Linked DNA regions of Homo sapiens. The protein of the gene in region 2 interacts with the protein of the main gene of each other region in a pairwise test. Each region holds a gene or a part of one and is shown on either strand. Other genes may lie near its edges.

The links.
Region 1: the proteins of SENP2 (region 2) and SDR16C5 interact in binary tests that used the Homo sapiens proteins (3 or more experiments, as listed by UniProt).

Annotation. Positions count from the first base shown.
Region 1 is NC_000008.11:56,299,505-56,303,175, forward strand, and holds the end of SDR16C5 (epidermal retinol dehydrogenase 2), read right to left. Parts: intron 2,070-3,671; coding exon 1,976-2,069; 3' UTR 501-1,975; downstream 1-500. UniProt on the Homo sapiens protein: Oxidoreductase with strong preference for NAD. Active in both the oxidative and reductive directions. Oxidizes all-trans-retinol in all-trans-retinaldehyde.
Region 2 is NC_000003.12:185,631,295-185,634,051, reverse strand, and holds the end of SENP2 (sentrin-specific protease 2), read right to left. Parts: 3' UTR 501-2,757; downstream 1-500. UniProt on the Homo sapiens protein: Protease that catalyzes two essential functions in the SUMO pathway.

The sequences.
Region 1 (3,671 bases), on a different chromosome or scaffold from region 2:
AAATTTTGATGGAAACGGGCATGACACACATGCCAAGAGCACTCCTTGCTCCCCAGGGCATTAAATCACCTTGTTATTTAGTGCCCTCTAGAATCCACTAATTTACATGTGGTCTCTTCTCATAGAAGCATCTCAAGTAAATCTGAATTTGTTTAGACAATTTTATGGGTATTTTAAAACCACAATTGAATTTCAGGCCTTTGTCGCAGTCCAGCCAAGATGCACTCCAATTAGAAATAATTGCTATTAATGCTGTTATGATGTGGAGGATGCCTGCAGTGCTCCTGGACCTTTGTTGTACTGAATCCCCGAAGAGTCTGAGCTTTATTCTTTAACTAAATAGACAGGACCCTAGAAGATACGCTTCTGGAATTGTAATATTACAGCAATATTGTGCTTCTCTCTTAATTAACCTTGTTAACCAAGGATTTGGAACATCAGTGGGTGACTCTGAGAGGGCCTTTGATCCTCTCAGTATACATCTACAGTGGAATAAGATGTCACTGTGAAATAAAACGCCTTTATTCTTTGGCATACACCAAATACCTTCATCATTCTTTGAGTAATGATTGACAGTCTCGTTTAATGAAATAATGTTTGTCAAATACTTAATTTGCTGCCGGGCACAGTAAATGTTAGTTATGATTGTTATAATATTATCATAAAACAAGTTTTTTTTTTTTAAGGTTTTCTGAATGGAAAGGAAATACAGATCAGGGCTGTCATGTTCGTGCAGGCCACTCAAGGTAAACCATAGTGGATTCCAGAGTTTACACCCCCTGAGACTGCTGCCCCTATGACAGCATTTTACCCCCAAGATAGTCAAATTCTCAATTCTTTAGACTTTTACCGGGTCTCCCAAGGTACCGCTCATCCCCTCCTTGCTCCCCACAAGAGGGAAGAGACAAAGGCTGCTGTTTCTCTTGCAAGGCTGCCCCCACCAGCCTGAGAAGGAGTTCCAGGGATATGGTAATTAACATATTTTTCTTAATCTTGCTTTTATAGTTAATCTCCAAAGCATGAAAGCACTTTGCCAGTTGATTAAACTGTAAGAATACAATAGATCCAAAGTGAGGGCAGCACTGATGAATATAAATGCATAAAATTGCCCATTCTGCAGGAAAATGCCTCAACCTGAATCCCAACTTGAAATACTAAGTTGAACACTTAACTTTAATTGCACGAATATATTTTTTGGATCAATAGATAGCAAAAAACCTAACTTGGTATAATTTCATCTTCAAAGTAAGAAGCAACCACTCTTTGATCTCTTCTAGGAAACAAAAGTGATTCTATTTAAGAGTTTGGTCTAGGATCACTGCCTATGAGGGGGCTTCAGGGAATGCCCGGTAAGGCTCTTGGGCACAATAGTGCTGGATGGGCCTTTAGCCAGACTGCCACTCGGTCTGCGTATCCAGGGCATTCAGAAGCATTTGTGTAGCTGTTTTGGAAAGAAGGGCACTGGAGGCGGGCCTTTTCTACATTAGGTGGTACAGGTTCAAAATGGCCAGAGAGGATAGCAAGGGGGTAGAAATCCAGAGCTGTGTGTCCTCTGGAGAGAGGGCATTCTGGCTGGATATCCACATGTCCTCTTCGCCCCTCAGCCCTGCTCCCCAAGGCAGGTCAACCACAGCCGCTGGCTCCATTTGAGCCACCTCCCCAACGACCAAAGCTCAGGGCAGCTCATGGCCATGGCTTATCACTTTCTTACATCTGTGGTAATGGAAATGACAAAAATGGGCTGTCTTTATTTTTGGAAAAAAAAAGAAAAAGAAAAAACCAAAACTCAACCAAATAGGTGATAGCAACATTATTTTCAAACACATTGATTGAAAATTCTAGTCCAGATAACAGAATAGGAGTGGTACTTGTGGTCTCCAGATATATTCCACTGTCAGACAAAAATACTTTTCTTCATTGAAGTACGCATTATGTAACACTGTGTATCAGATGACCTTAGCCATAGAGTTGGTCTTTAGAGCTTCTTCTTTTGGTCAACAAAGCCATCCATTGCATGAAGGATGCCCAAATAGTCAGCTATAAGCAGTCCTGTCTTGAGGGGCAAAAAGCTAAAGAGAACACAAGAATAAACTTTCTTTATTATCATTCATGAAAGCCTCTTTACCACCTCTACTGAAAAGCAGTGTCACCTCTTGTGGCAGATGAAGTCACTCACTCATGCACACACTATGCAGCCTGAGTGCTACCCGCCTCAGGGTCACTGGGCCTTGTTCACTATATCCGGGGACACTCGCCCAGGGCCTTGACAGGTCTTCTGGCTTAAGTTATTCAATTCACTTCTCATTTCGGTTTCCAAAGCATCACTCCACTGTACAATGACACAGAGGAAGCAGTGAAGTCTTGTCCTGTAGGCATGCGCTTTGGGGGCAGATGAGCCTGGCTGGAATCCTAGCTCTGTCATTTGCAGTGCCGCCTTAGGCAATCGACTCAGCTCATAGACCTCAGTTTCCTCAACTGTAAAATGAGGTCATCAGTCTGCCTTTCTGGCGCTACTGTGAGGATGAGATGCAATAGCTCCTCAAACCTTGGGCAAGACCCAACTAACACTGTCCATCTTCTCCATCCACACCTGCCCCTCTGCAAAGCCATATACATGCATGATCATCATCCCAACAGAGCACTCTGCTCCACTGGCCTTTGCATTCAATACTGCAGAGCAAGGAAACAAAGCAGGCACGGGAAACCTGAGACTCATCCTAAGGTGGGGGTAAAGGAAAGGACCCCATGCTCCTTGTTCCCCTGTTTGGGCACCCCAAGATCTCCAGGTGGTTCATCCCTCCCACAGCTTCAAGTCTCTGGTCAAGTACTACCTTCTTTATGAGACTCCCTCCACCCACCAAACACCATTCTTAAAATTAATTCTCACCGGCCGGGCGCAGTGGCTCACGCCTGTAATCCCAGCACTTTAGGAGGCTGAGGTGGGCAGATCACAAGGTCAGGAGTTTGAGACCAGCCTGGCCAACATGGTGAAACCCCATCTCTACTAAAAATACAAAAATTAGCCAGGTGTGGTGGTGCACGCCTGTAATCCTAGCTACTCAGGAGGCTGAGGCAGGAGAATCACTTGAACCCGGGAGGTGGGGGTTGCAGTGAGGCATGATTGCACCACTGCACTCCAGCCTAGGCAACAGAGCAAGAGTCCATCTCAAAAAAAAAAAAAAAAATTAAATCTCACTTAGATGTGGTGGCTCATGCTTGTAATCCCAGTGCTTTGGGAGGCTGAGGTGGGAGGATTGCTTGAAGCCAGGAATTTGAGACCAGCCTGGGCAACATAGCAAGACCCCATCTCTAAAAAAATAAAAATAAATTAGCTGTGCATAATGGTGCACAACTATAGTCCCAGCTATTTGGGAGGCTGAGGTGGGAGGATGGCTTGAGCCTGGGAGTTTGAGGCTGCTGTGGGCTATGATCAAGCCACTGCACTCTAGCCTGGGTGACAGAACAAGACCTTGTCTCCAAAAAAAATTAAAGAGTAAAATTAAAAAAAAAACAACAACGTAAATCTTGGCCGGGTGCAGTGGCCCATGCTTGTAATCCCAGCACTTTGGGAGGCTGAGGTGGGTGGATGACCTGAGGTCGAGAGTTCAAGACCAGCCTGGCCAATGTGGTGAAACCCCATCTCTACTAAAAATACAAAAATTAGCCAGGCA
Region 2 (2,757 bases):
GCTGGGATTTCATATTTTTTATACAAGTTACAAGACTTCTACTTAACACATTTTAGGAAATGCCCATCTGAGAACCTAAAGATTGTTTCCACCACATATTTCCATCAAAAGTCTCAAAGCTGCTAGTCTGTTTTCCTAGATTTAGATGGAGTCATCTCAAAACAGCCTCACATTTATAATATATATGGTATTTTTTGGTCTCAGGCTTTATGGTTTTAAACATCATTTGCCTCGCGGTCAGGTCACTTAGAGCAGTATTTTCCTTCTCTGCATTATCTGTCCATTAGTGGGCAGAGAAATCAACTTGGTGGTTACAACCTAAATGTTTTTAAAAACTGAAATAAAACTATCATCATAGTAAGGATATGTATTACTTCACAAAAGTGTATGTGCAATGTTGTTTGTGTCCATATACAATCACACTGTGTGTGTGTGTGTGTGTGGTCACAACATAAAATACTTATTCCTATGAGTTGCAATAAAAAACAAGTGAAAGCCACTGAATTAAAGAGATGAATTTATTGGTAAATAGATAAAATTAACACCTATTTTAATATATCCAAACCCCTTCCTTATATATATTAGGTAAATTAAAAGAAAAAAATTATCAAAGCAATACTACAGCCAGCTACATCGCCAATTTACAAATGAGTTAGTAAGTACCATAAGTTTGTTTGAATATCAGGTGCTTCAGAGTTTTTCTCAAACAGTTACAAAAGAGATTAGGTTCCCAATCAGTTCACAAAAGCTAATTTAAAGAATGTAGCTTAACTACAGTACTGAGGTTGTCACACACTTAACTTTCGGTCTCTTGCTTATTTATTCATATCTGAGGTTCACTGTTTCTACTAGGATACATTCCGCCCACACCCACACCTTGGTCCCCACATCAAGCAGCTCCTCACAGCAGGAAGACATCCGCTATCAGACATGGTTTTCTGAAGTTGTGCTTAGGATTTCAGAGGAGGAAAAATTCAGAGGTTCTAATAGCCTTCGGTAACTGAGGTAGAATATGGGGCTCCCAAGAATATCTTCCATATGCCCCAAATCTGTTTCCCTCCCACCCCCATCCAGCTCTGTTCAAGGTCAAGTTTGAGAAAGATACGTGTTCTCAATGGTATATTTTTAAAATCCACATCAATTTTTAAGAGACTACCTGCTAAAGGAGAATAATGGCTCACTGCATCTTTTCTCAACCCCCTAAACTATTTTAAAAACACACTGGCAGGGACAGGTGCAATGGCTCACGCCTGTAATCCCAGCACTTTGGGAGGCCGAGGCGGGCAGATCACTTGAGGTCGGGAGTTTAAGACCAGCCTGACCAACATGGAGAAACCCCGTCTCCACTAAAAATACAAAATTAGCCAGGGGTGGTGGCACATGCCTGTAATCCCAGCTACTCGGGAGGCTGAGGCAGGAGAATCGCTTGAACCTGGGAGGTGGGGGTTGCAGTGAGCTGAGATAGCGCCATTGCACTCCAGCCTGGGCGACAAAAGTGAAACTCCGTCTCAAAAACAGGCTGGGTGAGGTGGCTCATGACTGTAATACCAGCACTTTGGGAGGCCGAGGCGGGTGGATCACCTGAGGTCAGCAGTTCAAGACCAGCCTGGCCAACATGGCGAAACCCCATCTCTACTAAAAGTACAAAAATTAGCAGGGTGTGGTGGTGGGCACCTGTAATCCCAGCTACGCAGGAGGCTGAGGCAGGAGAATCGCTTGAACCTGGGAGGCGGAGGTTGCAGTGAGCTGAGATCACACCATTGTACTCCAGCCTGGGCGACAAGAGACTCTGTCGCAAAAAAAAAAAAAAAAAACAAAAAAAAAAAACAAAAAAAAAACCACTGGCTTTAATGGTGATAATTTGCTACTAATAAAATCAATAGCTGTTTTTCAACTGAACACTTAAACTTTTAGATCCAAATAAACTGTTTGGATCTAAAAAACTATATTACTAACATGTTTCCTTATGCCAAGGGAGACATGTGAGTGCCTAGAGAAGTATGGCCTGTGGTCTCCCACATTCAATTCAGGAACTCAGGGTCAAGCAGAAGGCCATGCTATAGACTTCAACACTCTGCTCTTCCCAATTTCATTATGTCCTGCAAGTTTTAAGAGCCGTCCGGAAGAGTGTAGGTTAATGGAAAGCTCAGTGAGAACTGCTCTGAAGAAGCCCCTCAAAATAATACATTAAGCTCAGCATCATTCACGTGGGCGGAATACAAACTGACATTCCTAACAGGACTTACCTAGCATGGACTCGATCTTAACCATGGTACCAAACTCTCAAGTGAAGCACACTGATGCCTGGTGAAAGCCAGGCGTTTGGTATGATGCTGACCTAGTGAACCTCTGGCCTTTTTGGCTGTGCTCATTACCTGGTCCCAGCACTCACTGGCACAATGCCAGGAGCCCAGAGAAAGGAGCAGGGGCTGCGGGGGGGGGGGGGGGAGGGGGAAGGGGGGAGGGAGGGTGGGGAAAGGGGAGAAGGGGGGAGGGTGGGGGAAAGGGGGAGGGTGGGTGTTAGGGAGAGAGGGAGGGGGAGGGAGGGGGAGGGGGGGGAGGGAGGGAGGGGGGAGGGAGGGAGGGGGAGGGGAGAGGGAGGGAGGGGGAGTGGGAGGGGGGGGGGAGAGGTGTGGTACAACCTGCTCCCGCTTCAGTCATCACCCACCACATGGCCTCTGGCTGACCATCCAGTAGGCCCAGCATTTTCCATCCACACCACAGGCCCCATGTCCTAAACCAGGAGTTTTACAAGTC